3 linked regions of the Homo sapiens genome follow. The protein of the gene in region 1 interacts with the protein of each later gene in a pairwise test. Each region holds a gene or a part of one and is shown in the gene's direction. Other genes may lie near its edges.

Region 1 (7,029 bases):
ATGTATATATATAAAAGGACTTCTTGAAAGGATGGTCCCTGGGTGGCTTAGGTAAGTGGCAGCAAGGCTGGCTAGCCAGGCTTAGGAATCTAGGACATGCCACAGGACCCCTGATGGGTGGGTGGCTGCGGCTGCCAGAACAGGACCCTGGATGTGGCTACTGGCATTGCTGCCATCATTGCTGGAATGAATTAGATACTGTCCTGCTTCAGAGTGCGCAGGCCCAGGCCCAGAAGAAAGCTTCTGATTGGCCCAGCATGGCTCAGCTCCACCAGGACACAGTTTGGGCGCCTCAGCTGACCTCACAATGCAAGGCAGGGCTGCCTCCCACCCAGCTCACAAACGTGGTCTCAGATGTTGGGTATCCCCCATGCCCCCGCCAAAAGCACTCCAGATGACAAAAATCCACTACAAAGCTCTTCTTTAAAAAGAAAGATTCTGAGAAGTTCCATCAAAAGAAGAAAAGAAGAAATGAAGGTGATTGATCACCATATTTGCTTTTTCATTTTTAATTTTTTTTTTTGAGATGGAGTCTCTGTCACCCAGGCTGGAGTGCAGTGGCATGATCTCAGGTCACTGCAACCTCCGCCTCCCGGGTTCAAGTGATTCTCCTGCCTCAGCCTCCCGAGTAGCTGGGACTACAGGTGTGCACCACCACACCTGGCTAATTTTTTTTGTATTTTTAGTAGAGACAGGGTTTCACCATGTTAGCCAGGATGGTCTCGATCTCCTGACCTCGTGATCCGCCCGCCTCGGCCTCCCAAAATGCTGGGATTACAGGCTTGAGCCACCACGCCCGGGCCATATTTGCTTTTAAACCAGTATTGAAATGCAGTTCTCTGGACTCCAGGCTCAAAATCATGTAAGGTCGCCCAGGCTGGAGTGCAGTGGTATGATTATGGCTCACTACAGGCTCAGCTTCCTGGACTCAAGTAATCCTCCTGCTTCAGACTTCCGAGTAGCTGGGACTACAGTTGTGCACCACTACGTTTGCTAATTTAAATTTTTTTTTTTTTTTTTTTTTTTTTTGTAGAGACAGGGCCTCTCTATGTTGCCCAGGCTGGTAGCAATTCTTCATTGAGTACCAACTGTGTTCCAGGCTCTGGGGATACAGAAATAAGCCAGGGACCTGCACAGCAGCTGGGGTAGATCAATTCAAAGCAATATGAAAAGGGCATTTGGGGAGCTTTCACCTTACATGTGTTATTTTCCAATGTGTTTGGGAAGCCTGAAGTGTCCTTGGAAAGTGACATGAATTGACTAGGCGGGTACTCCAGGATCAGAGTACTCCAGGAACAGAACTGTTCTCAAACTTTGTTTGAAGGATCAGTCCCCAGGAAAGCTTGTTAAAAATGCAGATTAATGGGTTTCATCCCAGAAATTAGGTCCATTAATAGTCTGCATTTCAACTAAACACCCCATTTTATCCCGAGACAGATGCTACTCTCAGTGGCTCTCGGACCTAGTGGGGTTTAGCTGGTAAATACTCAGAGCTTCTGTTTTTGGCACAACCTATTAAACCCGAGATAAAAAACTCTTCCTCTTTGACTTGACTTTAATCAGTTTCTAGTATTTCATAGTTAGTGAGATATTAATACTTTCTTAAAATGTACTTTAAAACTTCAGAGGGACCTACATTTTGGAGCAAGATGTAAAGAAATCTGGAAGTGCAACTGCAGTTGCTGTCTATCTCAAGTCATTGTCTCCCATCTTTGCTGCGGTGAGCAGTTATGTTTCACTTCACTGGGAATTTCCCTTCCCCTGCTTTGTCACTGAGGGAGTTGGAGAGCCTGTTTGTTCATAGTTCTTCCCTTGGCAGTTTCTCTCTGTCCTGGGCTGAGGTTTGGTGGAATTACCAGAAAGTGGGCCTTCTCAGCATCTGAGCCTTTAATCCTTCCAGCTGCTGTGCTGGAGGCTTAGCTCTCTGCCTGTCCTTTAGCAAAAAAAAAAACCAAGATAAAGTGTACATGTGGTGTGTTGTGCTTGCAGTAGATGTTTGAAGGGAGCCCTTTGGAAACACCAGGGTCAAGGTGTCTATTGTGGATGTGACGGTGGGCGTAACCTGAAGCGTGGGCCTGAGGTTAGTACTGGCAGCCACTTGGGATCTGAGCAGCCCATGATTTGACAAAGGAAGAATTTGGGGCCCTTGTATTGGTAGCTTTGTGCAGGAGTAATTGGAGTGGGACAGGACTTAGAAGATGAGGCAATGGAGGGATTAGATATGAATTAACATCTTTGTTCAAATAGCTCAAGAAATCCCATCTGTTGTCCAAAGCTTTCTTTGACTTGGAATATTGGTAGTGGGTCCTCTGGCTTCTTGCAAAGTATGTCACCTTCTTCATCATCCCCCTTCCCTTTCTTACAGTATGTGTTTCAGGAGCACCCTGTACTTATCTTGAAAGTTAGTAAGTATGTATCTAGCTCACAAAGTGACAGCAGCTTGCTCTTGCTCCAGGACACTTAATACAGAGAGGAAGAGTGGTACACTTGGGATCCTTCCAGGTTCTGTGCTGATTTGCCTAGTCTCATGAAACCGCACAAGGAAATAACATATTTTGGCTTCTACGCCAGCACTTGCCCTGTAGCTCTGGAGCAGGCTGTGTTTGGTTTCCACCCACCTACCTGGATTAGGCTGAAGGCCCTGCTCTAAAGCTTTGCAGCCTCCTGTCTGGGGCACTTCTTGCTGCAGGCAGGTTACATGCATTGGTGACTCTGCTGCTATTTCTTTCCCTGCCAGGGATGGTGCCATGAGTGAAACAAGCTGCTCAGCAGGCACTTACTAAACACCGACTACGTGCCATGCCCAGTGTTAAGGTCTGGGGATTGAAAGAAGAGTAGGACAGAGTCCATCTTGGAGGCACTTTCTGTCCCATTCCCTTCCCAGATGCTGGAGCCACAGCTGCTTTTAGGATTCTTGTGTCTTTCTCCGTCTCCCAAGGGGTAGGTAAGAGTCTCCCTCTGCCCTGGCTTTCATCTCTGAGACCCCTAGTTGTAGAGGTGGTGACTTAGGGTGAAGATTTCCATCAGGATTACTTGGTAAGCTTATTAGAAAGACAGGTTCCAGTGTTGCACATGTGTCCAGCCTCAAACGGTGTGGTCCCTAGACTTGAGGCCATGCCCTTCTACTTTGGATTCGGGGTGAGGTGGAGAGGGGGATGTTTGAAATGAGATTAGTGAGTAAATAAGTAGAATATAAGGCAGAGTAAGATATATCTCCAGCGGCAAAGAGAACAACACACACTTGGAGAAGAAATAAGCATATAAGCATGTACTGGATTGCTGGGGCCCCAGTGGCTCGTACTAGAGCCTGAGAGGGAGGGCACTGAAGGGACAGTGTCTTGATGTCATAGTTAGATCTTGGACTTTGAAGGCAAACTAGTGGGTTTGACTCTTGGCCGCATGGTTAATTGAAGGGGTGGGTTGCCCCTCCACACCTGTGGGTGTTTCTCGTTAGGTGGAACGAGAGACTTGGAAAAGAAAAAGACACAGAGACAAAGTATAGAGAAAGAAATAAGGGGGCCCAGGGGACCAGCGTTCAGCGTACGGAGGATCCATCCTGGCCTCTGAGTTCCCTTAGTATTTATTGATCATTCTTGGGTGTTTCTCAGAGAGGGGGATGTGGCAGGGTCACAGGATAATAGTGGAGAGAAGGTCAGCAGATAAACACGTGAACAAAGGTTTCTGCATCATAGACAAGGTAAAGAATTAAGTGCTGTGCTTTAGATATGCATACCCATAAACATCTCAATGCCTTACAGAGCAGCATTGTTGCCCGCATGTCCCACCTCCAGCCCTAAGGCGGTTTTCCCCTATCTCAGTAGATGGAACATACAATCGGGTTTTATACCGAGACATTCCATTGCCCAGGGACGGGCAGGAGACAGATGCCTTCCTCTTGTCTCAACTGCAAGAGGCATGCCTTCCTCTTATACTAATGCTCCTCAGCACAGACCCTTTACGGGTGTCGGGCTGGGGGACAGTCAGGTCTTTCCCTTCCCACGAGGCCATATTTCAGACTATCACATGGGGAGAAACCTTGGACAATACCTGGCTTTCCTAGGCAGAGGTCCCTGCGGTCTTCCGGCCTTCCGCAATGTTTGTGTCCCTGGGTAGTTGAGATTAGGGAGTGGTGATGACTCTTAACGAGCATGCTGCCTTCAAGCATCTGTTTAACAAAGCACATCTTGCACAGCCCTTAATCCATTTAACCGTGAGTGGACACAGCACATGTTTCAGAGAGCACGGGGTTGGGGGTAAGGTTATAGATTAACAGCATCTCAAGCTGAAGAATTTCTCTTAGTACAGAACAAAATGGAGTCTCCTATGTCTACTTCTTTCTACACAGACACAGTAACAATCTGATCTCTCTTTCTTTTCCCCACATTAGGGAGGGCACTGAAGGGACAGTGTCTTGATGTCATAGTTAGATCTTGGACTTTGAAGGCAAACTAGTGGGTTTGACTCTTGGCCACATGGTTAATCACCTGTGACCTTGGGCAAGTCACCAGAATCCTCTCTGTGTCAGTTTCCTCATCTGCAAAATGGAATAATGCCTTAAACAAGGAGGACCTTGTTTCTATCTATGAAGCATGGAGAACAGTGCCTGGAAGATAGTAAGTGCTCAATAAATGTTAGTTTCCAAGATCTCAAGCTTTCTCTACAATATTTAGTATTTCCCGAACCCATAAAGGGTCTGTGTTCTGAGTCTGGCCCTCCTGAGAAGGGACCTTCTGTGAGTCATGGCTTTGATGCCAGCACCTGCCCTGTGGCTCTGGAGCAGGTTGTGTGCTTGGTTTCCACCCACCCATCCGGATTAGGCTGGAGGCCTTGCTCTAAAGCTTTGCAGCGTCCTCTCCGGGCAGCTCCAGGTGCAGGCAGTTTACACGCATTGATGACTCTGCTGCTGTTTCTCTCCCTGCCAGGGATGGTGCCTTGAGTGAATGACCCCCTTGGAGAACATTCTTCCGCATCCCTCGCCTCAAGCCAGCCTCAGACAGAAAACTGAAGATTCAGCAGATCCAGTGCTTCCTGCTCCTCTTCTGCCCAGGAACACGCTTGCCTTCCCCAAGGCTTCCAGAAGCTCTGAGGCAGGAGGCACCAAGTTCTACCTCATGTTTGGAGGATCTTGCTAGCTATGGCCCTCGTACTCGGCTCCCTGTTGCTGCTGGGGCTGTGCGGGAACTCCTTTTCAGGAGGGCAGCCTTCATCCACAGATGCTCCTAAGGCTTGGAATTATGAATTGCCTGCAACAAATTATGAGACCCAAGACTCCCATAAAGCTGGACCCATTGGCATTCTCTTTGAACTAGTGCATATCTTTCTCTATGTGGTACAGCCGCGTGATTTCCCAGAAGGTAAGTGCTGATGGCAGGGAAAGATAGGATTTATCTCCAAACGCACCCACAATATTGTTTTTTAATGTCAATGCAATCAATATATAATATATTCAGTATTTTAGCGATTGCTTTGCACAGAAGCAGAAAGCATTTAGACAGAAGTTAAGAAGACTTGTACCAGGTTACATAGGTTGCGAGGAATGTTATTATAAGAAATGGAAGCAAACGATGTTGCTATGTTGGTTTTCCACTTCTTTACCTTTTGTTTTGCTTGGTTTTGCTTTGTTTGGGTTAGAGCAATGAATTATTCTAAGGCACTTACCAAAGGTAAAAGTTAGAGTAAAGTTAGGGTAAAAATGCAAATTGTGTGTCATCAAAGGAGAAACGAATAACTAGCAACTGATGGCCACCTCATCGCTTAAAAATTTAACTCTCTTCTGCCCACCACAATATGCAAATTTTGACATTGCTTAGGGTAAGGACAAACATGTTTACTTGATCAGCTGTTTTCTTCATTTCTAAGAGCTTGGGTGTGAGGAAGAGGATTGGCACTTTCCAGAACTGTCATGCCATAGTGCTGTTATTCATCACACACAGTGCTGTTTGTCATTTTCGCCTTCTTAATGTTTGTTGTTTTCCATACTCTTCTGAATTCAGGGTATGTGTTCATAGAAAAGGGATTATGAAAGTAAAAATAGCCTGTGGGAAATATCTGCTACTAGGGTTTGGCACCTAAATTTTTGATTGGCTTAACAGTAAGTCCATCCTAAGCCTGTTCTTTTAGTTACAAAGATTTGATTACAATCATTGATTATAGAATTCGCTGTAATCTTTCTTATCATTTTCCTTAGCTGTTCAGCTACTGTTTGTAAGAGTCCTACTGGTGTGTGTACATGCCTGTGTGTGAGAGAGAGGGAGGAAGAGAGACAGGATGTATTTAGTGAATATCATCACATGTTTATATTATGGGGAGTTTATATATTTTCATTAAAATACATTTGTATTGGTTTTTTAACACTTATTTGTCTTAGGGCAATTAAAACAGCTTGAAGTATAGTTGTCAATTTTTGCTAATTTAAATTTCAGTTCACCAAAACAAATCTCTTTGAATGGTTATTGGCATTGAAGAGAATCCTGAACGAATGCTACTTACTGTTTATGTTGCTGTTAAAAATACTAACTTTGGAAATTCCAAAGACAGAAGTAGAAAATTAGAGTTTATTTCTTAACATTGGATGCAAATTCACTCTTCTGAATAGACATCTCTTGGCTTATTTGGAGACTTAATATGTGTTACTGAATAAAATAACCTACTAACATTTTTATTTAAAAAAACTCTTTAATTTTTGTCGGTACCTAGTAGGTGTATATATTCACGGGGTACAAGAGATATTTTGATACAGACATGCAATGTGTAATAATCACATCATATAAAATGGTGTATCTATCTCCTCAAACATTTATTCTTTGTGTTACAAACAATCCAATTACTCTTTTAGTTATTTCAAAATGTACAATTACATTATTATTGACTATAGTCATCCTGTTGTGCTATCAGATACTAGGTCTTATTCATCCTTTTAAACTAGTTTCCTACTAATGTTTTTAGTCTTTGCTTCTTGGTTTTGTTTTAATATAAAAGGCATAGAATTCAGTTGTCGAATATGAATTTACAATCATTTCCTCAAAAAGA
Region 2 (7,029 bases), about 39 Mb from region 1:
ACCAGATGGAATTAAGAGAACTAAGCTTTTATCATCTGCTGGATATAATGTGATTTTGTAACCATTATTGGATTGGTGTTGGTTTAGACAGTTTATTTTCAGCTGACTATATAGTTAATTCCGGGACTCTTATAAAGTTTTTTTTAAAAAGAGAAAAAGAGAAGATCAAAAGCACTGGAACTCAACGAGTAAATAACCCATGGTAACAGAGAGATATAATGCAGTGATGTCAGAGGTGTACAAGAAGTGTGAATCATTTAACATGTGAAGCCAGGGTCTTTAGTCCACTTGGGGAGAGCAAAGAGGTGAGTGGGCTTCTCCATCTTTTTCCTTCTGCCTGCCCTGCTACCCCCAGCCATATGCTTAGGAGTGGGGTTCCCATTTACACTGCCCTGCTTGTCGCTCCTGGCTCAGCTGACCCTGCTTGACATGTCCACTTCAGTAATTGAACTGAAACGCTGATTGATGAACTTAATTCTTAGTGTTCATCTTTTAGCCCTGTCATTTACCCCAGTATCACATTTATTTTAAAACAATAACTATTTTGGATTAAGTTAATTGTGTGAGTGAGAGATTATGAATATGTAACTTTGCAGGTATTTTGTTGAAGTTTTAGTCATATTGGAATTTTTAAGATAGAAATGATGGTAGGTGTAGAGCTACTAATATCCTTTTTAAGAAGCTAGGAAAAATCTAGCCATGCAGAATGCCACAGTGGTAGAAACAGTGTCCAGTAAACATATTAAATGGTCTTAAGGATTCTTGTCTTTTAAAGTTTTATTTAATTTTTTTTATAGAGACAAGGTCTTCTTATAGCTCATAACTCATTGCAGCCTCCAGCTCCTGGACTCAGGCCATCCTCCTGCCTCAGCCTTCTGAGTAGCTGGGAAGGGATCCTTGTCTTTAAAACTAGGGGTATGGAGGGAAGGGTGGGTATAATATAATATGATTTTTCCGTTTAATATTTTCATATATTCTTGGTGATTCATTTTAGTTAGGCATTTATTTATTATTGTTTATTCTAATTTTGTATTATAATAGAATATAATTGTCTTCTTTTCTTCCTTTTTTTTTTTTTTAGAGACAGGGTCTCACTATGTTGCTCAGCCTGCCCTCAAACTCCTGGGCTCAAGGGATCTTCCCCTCTTGGCCTGCCAAAGTGGTGGGATTACAGGCATGAGCCATCATGCCTGGCCTTGTCTTGTTTTTATTTTATATATATAATATATATAAAAAATAATATATAAATATATAATTTATATTTATATTATATATTAATATATTAATGTAATTAATATTATATTATATTAATATATAATATATAATATAATATTATATATTATATATAATATTATATATAATATTAATACTGTATTATATATAATATAATATTAATTATATTATATTAATATAATTAATTATATTAATATAATAATAATAAATAATATTAATATAATTAATATATTTATATTAAAATATAAAAATATAATATATATAATATATATATATTTTTTTGTCTCACTCTGTCGCCCAGGCTGGAGTGCAGTGGCGTGATCTTGGCTCACTGCAAGGTCTGCCTTCCAGGCTCACGCCATTCTCCTGCCTCAGCCTCCAGCATAGCTGGGACTACAGGCGCCCGCCACCATGCCCGCCTAATTTTTTGTATTTTTAGTAGAGACGAGGTTTTACCGTGTTAGCCAGGAGGTCTCCATCTCCTGACCTGGTGATCCGCCTGCCTCGGCCTCCCAAAGTGCTGGGATTACAGGAGTGAGCCACCACGCCTGGCCTTAATTATATTTTTATGTAACTTTTTGATACTACTCAAGTATTTTTTCCTCTACGGTACTCACTATGCTGAAAGATTTTTCTTTCACATGTTTTCTAAACTATGTAATATAAGTGTCATTGGCTATTTTTGTCCACCTGATGGAGGTAAGAAATGATCAAAGTACAGTTTAACAGCAGTATTAGCAAGAGTTGAGCCTTGCTGAATATGTAAGTTTCAACGGATTTGCTTTGCAACTACATGCAGTAGATGTTTTAAGAGGGTAGGTAGGATATTTAAATTTAACCTTTTTGTGCCACTGTGTGAGAGTGGGCTTCTGAAAATGGAGGGGGGAAGCATCTCTCCTTGGTTAGTAGGCATTCAAGTGGAAGATATGTTATAAAAACCTAGTTGTATCTTATAGGATGCTAAAAGCAAGGTGACTGAACTTCTAACAGGGCATTCTACATTGAGTATGTGCTTTTCTCTATAATTAGGCTAAAAAAAGGTTGGTAAGTAATATGAACTTAAAATCAAGATTAACCCCCAATTTACAAACCCATGATAAAAAGTGTTGTTGATTACTTGGATCCTATCTTTTCTGCAGTTTATGTTTCTAGTGACTTACTCAATAGTTTTTTCTTACTCTTTCCCTGGACAGAATATGTAATATAAGAAACATAAGTCCTTTGAGTTGAGGGAGATCAGATAGATTTAATAAAAGTCATTTAGACTTTATTGCATATTCTGGAAGTCCAAAGAAGAATGACTCTGGTTGCATAGCACTTCTAATAAAGCCACAAAATCATTACCTGACTCAGTGCCTGTTCTTGTTATCATATTTTTACTTTATGTTTTGGTATTTCATTTATTTATTACGTTTCAGCTGTGAGAGTACCTTCTACAAAACATTTTAAACTTTTTTCTATTTTCATTAAGTTGCAGTCCCACTCCACCCAGTCCAGCCTCCTAATTCTAGCCTTTATACAGCTAAGATTGAGGCAATCAGTTATAAGGACGCCTGCTCATAATTACCTTCTCAGAAGGTAATTATATTAATACTGAATTTATTTAGTGGTATGCTGTCATCAAAAAAATTCATTAAAAATAAAATCAATGAAGGCCGGGCGCAGTGGCTCACGCTTGTAATCCCTCCACTTTGGGAGGCCGAGGTGGGTGGATCACCTGAGGTCAAGAGTTCTAGACCAGCCTGGCCAACATGATGAAACCCCATCTCTACTGAAAATACAAAAAATTAGCTGGGCGTGGTGGCACACACCTGTAATCCCAGCTACTCAGGAGGCTGAGGCAGGAGAATCGCTTGAGCCCGGGAGGTGGAGGTTGCAGTGAACCAAGATCGTGCCACTGCCCTCCAGCCTGGGCAACAAGAGCAAAACTCTGTCTCCAAAAAAAAAAAAGAAACTAAACACATTTAATAAATTTCAAGTGCATAAATACATTACAAAACAACATTCATAAAAATAAACATTCATTAAAACAAAAAATAATTTTATTACAAAATATTACATATAAATTCTAATATAAATTAACAAGTAACAATAAAGTATTTAAAAATAGTGAAACCATTCACAAAAATACGTAATGAAAATTAAAATACTTTAATGTTATCTTTCGAAATCAGGTTTATCTGTGGTGTCATTGTTTAAGTGCGTGCGTGTGTGTGTGTGTGTATATATATATATATATATATATATATATATTTTTTTTTTTTTTTTTTTTTTTTTTTTTTTTTTGAGACAGAGTCTCACTGTCACCCAGGCTGGAGTGCAGTGGTGAGATCTTGGTTCACTTCAACCTCTGTCTCCGGGGTTCATGCAATTCTCATGCCTCAGCCTCCAGAGTGGCTGAGACTACAGGTGCATGCCACCACGCCCAGCTGATTTTTGTATTTTTAGTAGAGATGGGGTTTTGCCACGTTGGCCAGGCTGGTCTCAAGCTCCCAACCTCGAGTGATCCACCTACCACGCCTCCCAAGTTGCTAGGATTACAGGCATGAGCCACCATGCCCGGCCTAAGTGCATATATATTTTTGGGCACATTTTTACAACTTTTAAAAAAAGCTTTTTTTTTTTTTTGAGACGGAGTCTTGCTCTGTCGCCCAGGCTGGAGTGCAGTGGCGTGATCTCGGCTCACTGCAAGCTCTGCCTCCCGGGTTCACGCCATTCTCCTGCGTCAGCCTCCCAAGTAGCTGGGACTACAGGTGCCCGCCACACGCCCAGCTAATTTTTTGTATTTTTAGTAGAGATGGGGTTTCACCATGTTAGCCAGGATGGTCTCAATCTCCTGACCTCGTGATCCGCCCGCCTGGGCCTCCCAAAGTGCTGGGATTACAGGCATGAGCCACCACACCCGGCCCCTAAAAAAAGCTTTTTTGACTTAGTAGTGCCCAGGAGACAGTTCTAAGCAAATTGTAAGCATTTTCTTCTGACTCCTTTGTCTTCAGATAATCTCACCTCTTGTTTGATAACTTATTGAGCAACTTTGTTTCTGTTTTTTTGCAGGGACATCAGTTTTTTTCTTGGTAGCAAGCTGTAGATTTTGTTTCAAGGAAAGCATCTTCATCTTCTCTAGTTTCATCATGTATAGATGGAGATTCCGATGCAGGTATCTGTATCAATTTCAATACAGTCACATTTGTGTTTATTTGAACTCTAGAACTAGAAAAGGAATTACTTTTTTCTTTGATTTTCTTTTTCTTCCTTCTCTTGAGGATCATGAAAGTATAAAAGAATACTTTCTAAATGAGGGTGCCTTTTTCTTTTTCTTTTTTTTTTTTTTACAATTTTTACATTTGGAATTAAAATTTTAACTAGAAAAGAGTTTTTATTAAGCAAGTTTTTTTAAAAAAATCTTAAGTTGTTAATCCTGCTCTCAAGATGTAAGTAAGGTGTGTTTCAGACATTATTAAAATACTGAAATAGTGGTATTTGTACCAAAACACTAGTATCTCATTACTTACCATGATATATAACACTGTATAACTGAATAGTGGAATACCAAAATTGAAATTGCACACTGCATCTAATCCTGTATGCATCCAAGTATATTCTTCTGTGCCTGTACTGTCTGCCTTTTTCATGTTTTGGACAAAACTGTCATCCTTTGTGTACCTCCTCTCTGTGTCCACGTTCCTATTCTCCTCCCTCAGTGCCTTTATTCTCTCCCTTCCCATTGCTTCCTTTGTATCTGCTTACACATGTTCATATGTTTCTCTTATTTTGGAAAAGAAAGAAAAAGGTCATTCATTTAATCTTAACTTGACTATTAGTTTCGTTTTCTTTCCTTCCTTCCTTCCTTCCTTCTTTCTTTCCTTTTTTTTTTTTTTTTTGACAGTGTCTTGCTCTGTTGCCCAGCCTGGAGTGCAGTGGGCACAATCTTGGCACACTGCAACCTCAGCCTTCCGAGTGGCTAGGACTACAGGTGTGCGCCACCACGCCTGGCTATTTTTTTTTTTTGTACTTTTAGTAGAGATGGGGTTTCATCATGTTTGCCAGGCAGCTCTTGAATTCCTGACCTCAGATCTGTCCACCTCGGCCTCCCAAAGTGCTGGGATGACAGGCGTGAGCCACCATGCCCAGCCATATTAGTTTCTTCAGTTTTATAAACCAAACTTCTAACTAGGGGATTTGCTGCTTTTTCACTTTACTTTAGTATGTTGTTATCTGGCTTCAGTCCTTGCCTTTTCCTTGAAATTCTTTTTTTAATTTTAAAGATAGGGTCTTGCTCTGTCGCCCTGGCTGGAGTTCAGTGGCACAATCATAGCTTACTGCAGCCTGGAACTAGTGGGCTCAAGTGATCCTCCCACCTCAGCCTCCCAAGTAGCTGGGACTACAGGTGCATGCCACCACACCTGGCTAATTTTATTTATTTTATTTTTTTTTTTTGTGGAGATGAGGTCTCACTATGTTGCCCAGGCTGGCCTCGAACTCTTGGCCTCAAGCAGTCCTCCTGCATCGGCCTCCCAAAGTGCTGGGATTATAGGCATGAGCCACCACAAATTCCATTTTTTGAAAGAATCTTGTAAGTTAGCAAATTGCTAAATCCAGGGATCTTTTTCAGTTCTCATTTGACACTGTTAATTCTCTACTGTTTAAGAATCCATCTCAGGTGTATGAACTTGGCAGAATAATGAAGCCCGTTTGACCTCAGTTTTCCTGTATTAAAACTTAAAACAGCTCCTAAGTTTTTTTGAGTATCAAATGCAACAATGTGTCTGAAAATATCTCGCATCTAGTTAGTAGCGCACCCCAACCTGACGGTCTGTGATGCTTTAGTTGCTGCCTGGCTCGAAATATCTAAGATAGTTTTTTTTCCTATTTTTTTTCCTCCCTCCACCTTCTTTGAATAAAGACATTCTCTAAGGCGCATTCTTTGAACTTTATCTCTTTGCCTTATCTGTTGGAAATCTCATCTACTTGCAGAGCTTTAGCTGATAAATTTGGGCTGCCAGCAACCAGATAGAGTACGTCCTCACTTAATGTTATTAATAGATTCTTGGAAATGGTCACTTTAAGTGAAATGACATCAATGATGTCATTTTAATTCAGTGTTGTTTCATTATAACATTGATGAGAAAAGAAAGTTGGTTTTCTTTTACATCATTTCACTTAAAGTTGCAGTTTCCAAGAGCCTATTGAGGACACGAAGGCTGTCAACCTTGAGGCTACATACCTTGAGGCTGTCCTAGGCTAAACTCTGGTGATCCATTTCTGATAACCTCTTTCAAACCTTCATTTGAAATGCTTTTTATCACCCCAAGTGGAATGTATATGAAACCAAACCCCTTGTTTTTATTCCCCTTTCCGACATACCTTTTAAGAGTACTAAATACATAATAGCGTTTTAAGAGTACTAATATTTCTGCCAACCAGAAAACCTCACCACCATCTTTGATTCCCCCCATCCCGCCTACCTTTTTTTAAAGGTCTAGTGATTTTTCTTTCCATTGTGTGCAGAATTTTTTCCTTCTCTTATTTGTCTTAACACGGGTTTCATGCAGCTGACCTCCTGATTGATCCAGTGGCTGATACTCCCCACTCTGCCCTGATAATTGGTCACAGTGCCTTGATGGTGTTTATGTGTTACACAAAAATATGTAATGACTTCCCTCTTGCCTCTGAGCTTGTCCACAAACATAAAGAATTTCAGGCCCAGTTTATCTTTCTCATCTTGCCCCAACCATTCTTCTGATGGTTTACTTCTTGTTCTCAGAACATGCCTATATTCTTTCACATTGTCAGTAC
Region 3 (6,093 bases), on another chromosome or scaffold:
GCAGTAAATTATTTTGTGACATGTCTTAGATTTTGAGGAAAAACAGAATTGCAACTTAGGTTTTATCTAATTTTATCTACTTTATGACCTTGCAGCAGCATGGCAAAAGAGACAGGATTTTACAGGACTTTACAAAGTATGTTCACAAGGAATTGGAATTGGGAGCATAGATAAGGTCCGCTGGTCACAGAAAAAGGGTCTTTTAACATTCCTTTTAGTTTTAGGGGAGGGGGAAGGAAGAGAGGGAGAGAGGACACAGGGAAGCTTACAGCAGAATTTTTGCTGTTTATAGCTTTCTTGGGGAAGGAAACACATGCACAAATCCTGGTGTTAGGAATATTTTAGGCATGTATCTTCAGTACTCTTCATCCAGGACCGAAGTAAGTCCTGATGCAGGAAATGAGTGTTTCACAGCTTTCTGAACCCCTACTCGACCCAGGAAGCCCAGCTGGACCCTCCTTTCATGAGCAGGTTGGTCAGCCCCTGCACTGCCCCTTCCAGCCTCTGTGCATCTCTTGGGGACGGGGCAAGTGCTCAGGCCTTCTGGTTTCGGGCCTCCTGCCGTGAGCAGCAGCTGGATCCAGGACCCTGGGAGGAGTTCCTGTGTCCTGCAGGTCTCAGCTCCTACTCAACGTGGGCTCTTTCCGGGAACGTCAGTGCTGAGTCCGGGACACCCTGGGCCCAAGGCCACGCTCGCGGCCTGTCGGCAATCCAGGCTGTCGGCTCAGGACAGAGGGAAGGGTTAAGCCCCCAGCAGGGCCAGGGAGGGGCAAGGTGGCACCGGCTCCCCAGCTGCTCCCAGGCCCTGCTCTGTGGTGCTGGGGACCTGGCTTTAGTTCCTCGGGGGTGGAGGGGGCACCGCGCTGCCTGCCTCCGAGCTGTCTGGAGCAGCCAGTCCTGCAGATGTGGGCAGCTCAGGGCCCGTGGGAGGGAGGGGGCTTTGTGCCCAGGGCAGCAGCTGAAGGAGCCCCGGGCCTCGCAGCCCCTCCTGGGTGACCAGGTGCTGCTTCGTGGCAGCTGCCCCCTCCCGTCCAGCGGGTATGGGCCCTGCTCCCCCGTGGTGGGGGCGGCGCAGGAGAGTGGAGCGACCCTCATCTAAGTTACCTCTACCCGGGTCTGAGCCCCCGGACAGACACCCCCGCCCCGACCTGGTTACAGCGCCCTTCCCCGGTTCGGTCTCCGGTGTGCGCATGTGGGGTGCCCCATGGGCGGCCGCGGTGGGAGCTGGGGTGGCCATGCGCGCCCCCGCCCCGCCGTCCACCCGCGACTCCAGGTCTGGATCTACTCGCCCTCCCCACCCTTTCCCGCCCCCAGCCCCGGAGCCGCGCTCTCACCCCAGGGGCGGCAAGGGCGATGGACGCGGAGGAAGCGCCCTCTCCCCCTCGGGGGTCTCCCGGAGGCGAGTCCCGAAGGGGGCGAACTCCGAAGTGGGTCCCGGGTGGGAGGCGCGCGGCCCCGCCCGGCGGGGAGGGGGAAGCGGCGGAGGCGGGTGCTCAGCGGCGCCCCTGGCGGCGGCCGGCGCAGGTGCAGGTCCCGGAGGAGGCTCCGCCCGCAGCCCAGACCCCCGCGGGGTGGGCGGGACGCGGACCCTGAGACCCGCAGCGCCGGACCCGGACGGGAGCCCCTCTCCTCCCCCTCGGGCACGTCCCCGGCCGAGCCTTCCCGCCCTCCTCTGGGGCTCCCACCTCCCCTTCACCCGCGGGGGACCCGATTTCCGCGTCTCCTGGGCCCCTCCCTGGGCAGGGGGTCCAGCCGGAATCCAGGAGTGACCTGCTGGAGGACTTGGTGGCCAGGGAGTCACCCTGGGAGCCCGGTCCTGTGACCCCTTAATGGATTCTCTGCGCTCCTGGGCGGGCCCCTTGGTCGCATCGGGGCAGGGGAATCGCAATAAGGAAAGTGTAATTCACGCAGAGCCGGCTGCGGGGGAGACGGGAGTTTTATTATTACTCAAATCCTTCTCCCCAAAAACGTGGGGATCCGAGTTTCGAAGGATGATATGGTGGGTAGGCGGCCAGTGAGTCAGGAGCGCTGACCGGTCCGGTTGGAGATGAAGTCTTGGGGAGTCGAAGCTGTCTTCCCAACCCTAACCCAGCTCCTCGGTGGGGGCCACAGGACCACATGAGCAAGATTGTGGATTTAGGTGGTGCCAGCTGATCCATTGAGTACAGGGTCTGTAAAGTATCTCAAACTCTGATCCTAGGTTCTACAGTAGTGCTGTGATCCCCGGGAGCAATTTAGGGGTGGCGGGGTCAGAATCTTGCATCCTCCAGCCGCGTGACTCCTAAACCATAATTTCTAATCTTGTGGCTAATTTGTTAGTCCTGCAAAGGCAGTCTGGTCCTCAGGTAGGAAGGGGGCTTGTTCAGCCTTGATCTATAAACTGTTTCTCTCCAGATTAGTTTAGGCTAAGCCCAGGGATGAGCAAGGGCAGCTTGGAGGTTAGAAGCCAGGCGGAGTGGGTTAGGGTCAGACCTCCTTCACTGTCATCATATTCTCAGTTATGACTTTTGCAAAGGTGGTTTCAGTTCCATGCCTGCCCCTCAGAATCCTGTCTCCCTCTTGTGCCCTGCAGTTTCTTCCTTCCTAAACTGCCCGTGATTTAAAGAAGCTTCCAAAATACCTTCCACGGGAAATTCAAGCCCCACCCCACTCCGCAGTGATGTGTGGCCTTTGATAGGAGGTCACAGAGCCTTGTGAGGAGTTTGTGTAGGCAGTCCTCGATGTCTCAGAGCACGCTCCATCCACATCCACCCCTGGCTTGCCGGGACCCAGACATAGTTTGGTCTAAGTGGCCTGGGATGTGGCTGGGGCTGGAGGCGGCCTGTTGAGGGGTGGGTGGAGGGTGGGGGGGTTGGTGTGCGATTTGGGGAGGCCCAGCAGGGACTCCAAGCAAGGGCAAGGGCTAGTTCTTTTTTTTTTTTTTTAGCTGCAATGGGTAGGGAGGGGCTGATGGTTTTGGAGCTCGGTGTTTGAGATGTTAAGTCTGCTGATGCTCCTGGCCGAATAAAGGCCAAATAAAGCCCTTTCTTTCCTCAACTCGATGTCTGAGGGTTTTGTCTGTGGCTCGTCCTGCTACAATTTCTAACGTTACCAGTAATTTTAAAGCTAGCTTATTAAAGATTCTACTTAAGTCACATGAACGTGAAAAGCATTTAGGCTTATTATTTAATTTATGAGTACTCTTTAAGTTTAAGCTAAATTTGGTAACTTGTGGCCAAAAACACATAACGAAATATGTGTATGTGCACATATACACACATACACACTCAAGCAAAAGTATGGTTTTACTTCAGAACTCCAGCCATGAGATAGTAATACAAATTCATTGGTTTACACAAACAATAAAAAGAAATGGTTGGATGCAAACAGTGGATTTTATCTCTGTAGAAAAGTAACAGCAGACTTAAAGCAGGCAGAAACGAAAGCAGAAAGAGAACTTAAGAACATTACATTAATAATTGCAGGCCCACCTTTGGGCTCTGATTTTTCCTTTATGTAATTTGCAATTTGTAATTCATGATCCTTGTGCCTGAGGGCTCCCTTCTGCTACTCAGTCTACAATTCCCCGTCCCTGTGAAGGGGCACCCAGGCCTGACAGCCCCAGACTTGGCTTTGCCAACCCTCCAGGTCTCTCCTGCATGGCTAGGACCCAACGCCTAGGTCATCCAGCACTCACCCCAACCAAAGCCATGGGAATTGCTGGGACCCGGAAGGTAGGGGGTGGCACATGTGTGCCCTGTGCTCTGAAGCTGCCCCTACAGGCCCTGGAATCCTCCCCGTGTCTCAACACACTACCCTCTGGGGAGTCAGTTCTCCCCAGAGTCCCCGTTCCTGGGCCTGGAGGGCTGCTTTGGGGCAGGAAACTTTGGCCACCAGGCCTCTGACCTGCACCAGGAGACACTGGGAGGTTTAGTCCCCAAACCCGCACAGAGCAGGACTGCAGCCTGAGGAAAGAGCAAGGATTTCAGGAGAGAGGCCTGCGACAAGTGAGGTGAGGGCTTTTGGGGGATTGTCCTGGCGCCTGGAGTGTGGGGGCCTGGCAGGGGCCCTGAACCGGGACAGTGAGGTCCTGTACTTGCTGGCCTGGGGTGGACAGAACCCAAGCCTGGGTAAAATCCCCAGGGCCCCCTAAACCCAACACTTAGGAAGTCACTAGTCCTGACTTGAGTTTCTGATGAGGAAGCCTCTCTCCTTAGCCTTCAGCCTTTCCTCCCACCCTGCCATAAAGTAATTTGATCCTCAAGAAGTTAAACCACACCTCATTGGTCCCTGGCTAATTCACCAATTTACAAACAGCAGGAAATAGAAACTTAAGAGAAATACACACTTCTGAGAAACTGAAACGACAGGGGAAAGGAGGTCTCACTGAGCACCGTCCCAGCATCCGGACACCACAGCGGCCCTTCGCTCCACGCAGAAAACCACACTTCTCAAACCTTCACTCAACACTTCCTTCCCCAAAGCCAGAAGATGCACAAGGAGGAACATGAGGTGGCTGTGCTGGGGCCACCCCCCAGCACCATCCTTCCAAGGTCCACCGTGATCAACATCCACAGCGAGACCTCCGTGCCCGACCATGTCGTCTGGTCCCTGTTCAACACCCTCTTCTTGAACTGGTGCTGTCTGGGCTTCATAGCATTCGCCTACTCCGTGAAGGTGCGTATGGCCCTGGCGGAAATCCAGGGGGTGCCGGTGAGCCTGGGGCTCCACCTGCCCACATGCTGCCTGGGGTGGGGACTTGTGTGTCCCTGTGACTGTGAGTTTGTGTGCACCTCTGCCCCGTGTGTGCTCACGTCAGTAGCTTTGTCTGTGTGATCTGTGTGTGTGTGTGGCTTTGGGGAATCTGCCCAGTGCAGGTCTAGGAGGAGGCTCCAGGAGGCTGGCTGGCTGGCTCAGAGTCTGTCCCTGGCTATCCATTAGCCCAGAGCAATTCTCCCTATAGCCCAGTAAGAAATTACACCCTCACCTTCCAGACTGGCACCCAGGCTCTCCCAGAAAGTGAGAAGGGAACTCACAGGTGACTTCACCCCATGGTGGGGAGAACAGCCTGTGCTGGGGCCAAGGCAGAAGGAGGATGAGCCCCGAGGCTCCTGGAGAGTCTGAGCCCGGGTGAGGAAGGGGAGGAGGTGGTCCCTGATCTCAGGGCGGGGAGGAGACGGAGCCATAGCACGCGGCTCTCAGCTGGGGGATCCTGGTCCCCTCACCATCTCCTCTCCCCCAGTCTAGGGACAGGAAGATGGTTGGCGACGTGACCGGGGCCCAGGCCTATGCCTCCACCGCCAAGTGCCTGAACATCTGGGCCCTGATTCTGGGCATCCTCATGACCATTGGATTCATCCTGTTACTGGTATTCGGCTCTGTGACAGTCTACCATATTATGTTACAGATAATACAGGAAAAACGGGGTTACTAGTAGCCGCCCATAGCCTGCAACCTTTGCACTCCACTGTGCAATGCTGGCCCTGCACGCTGGGGCTGTTGCCCCTGCCCCCTTGGTCCTGCCCCTAGATACAGCAGTTTATACCCACACACCTGTCTACAGTGTCATTCAATAAAGTGCACGTGCTTGTGATGATGCTGTGACTTCATCTGGAGTGGGGGCCCTGCTGAGGGGTCCCGGCCTAGTCCTGAGACAGCCCAGTGCTCAGCCCCTGCACAGCCGTATCCCTCCTCTGTGAAGCTCTCAGGGGAGCAGGGATATGCTCAGAATCTGCTGGTTTCCGCCTCCTGCTGTGGGCAGCATCTGGACCAGGAACGTGGGGTGGGCATTTCTCTGACACCAAGGTAAGGACACACTGTCCAGAATACCTTTGGGCCAGGACAACCTGCCTCTGAGCTGGCTGGGCAGCTGGTCTTGCAGATGTGTGCACCTTAGGCCCTGTGGGAGGGGCAGGGGCTTTGTTCCTAGGGTAGCAGCTGAAGGAACCTCAGGGCTGCAGCCTCTCCTGGGTGATCCAGGTGTGCTGGATCCTAGCAGCTGCCTCCTCCAGTCCAGCCGGCATCTTCCCTGCTCCCCTGGGGTGGGGGCAGCCAATGGCCCGAGGGTGGGGCGCTCGCGAGGGCCTGGGAGGGCAGCTTCCGACCGGGAGCCCC

What was found.
Region 2: the proteins of PROM1 (region 1) and TMEM165 interact in a protein complementation assay, tested with the Homo sapiens proteins (one study listed by IntAct).
Region 3: the proteins of PROM1 (region 1) and IFITM1 interact in a protein complementation assay, tested with the Homo sapiens proteins (one study listed by IntAct).

Annotation. Positions count from the first base shown.
Region 1 is NC_000004.12:16,074,012-16,081,040, reverse strand, and holds part of PROM1 (prominin-1 isoform 1 precursor), read left to right. Parts: intron 1-2,737; exon of another isoform or gene 2,738-4,613; intron 4,614-4,922; 5' UTR 4,923-5,134; coding exon 5,135-5,354; intron 5,355-7,029. UniProt on the Homo sapiens protein: May play a role in cell differentiation, proliferation and apoptosis. Binds cholesterol in cholesterol-containing plasma membrane microdomains and may play a role in the organization of the apical plasma membrane in epithelial cells.
Region 2 is NC_000004.12:55,398,949-55,405,977, forward strand, and holds part of TMEM165 (putative divalent cation/proton antiporter TMEM165 precursor), read left to right. Parts: intron 1-4,287; exon of another isoform or gene 4,288-4,372; coding exon of another isoform or gene 4,373-4,390; intron 4,391-7,029. UniProt on the Homo sapiens protein: Putative divalent cation:proton antiporter that exchanges calcium or manganese ions for protons across the Golgi membrane.
Region 3 is NC_000011.10:309,701-315,793, forward strand, and holds IFITM1 (interferon-induced transmembrane protein 1), read left to right. Parts: upstream 1-4,339; 5' UTR 4,340-4,470; coding exon 4,471-4,656; intron 4,657-5,221; coding exon 5,222-5,413; 3' UTR 5,414-5,572; downstream 5,573-6,093.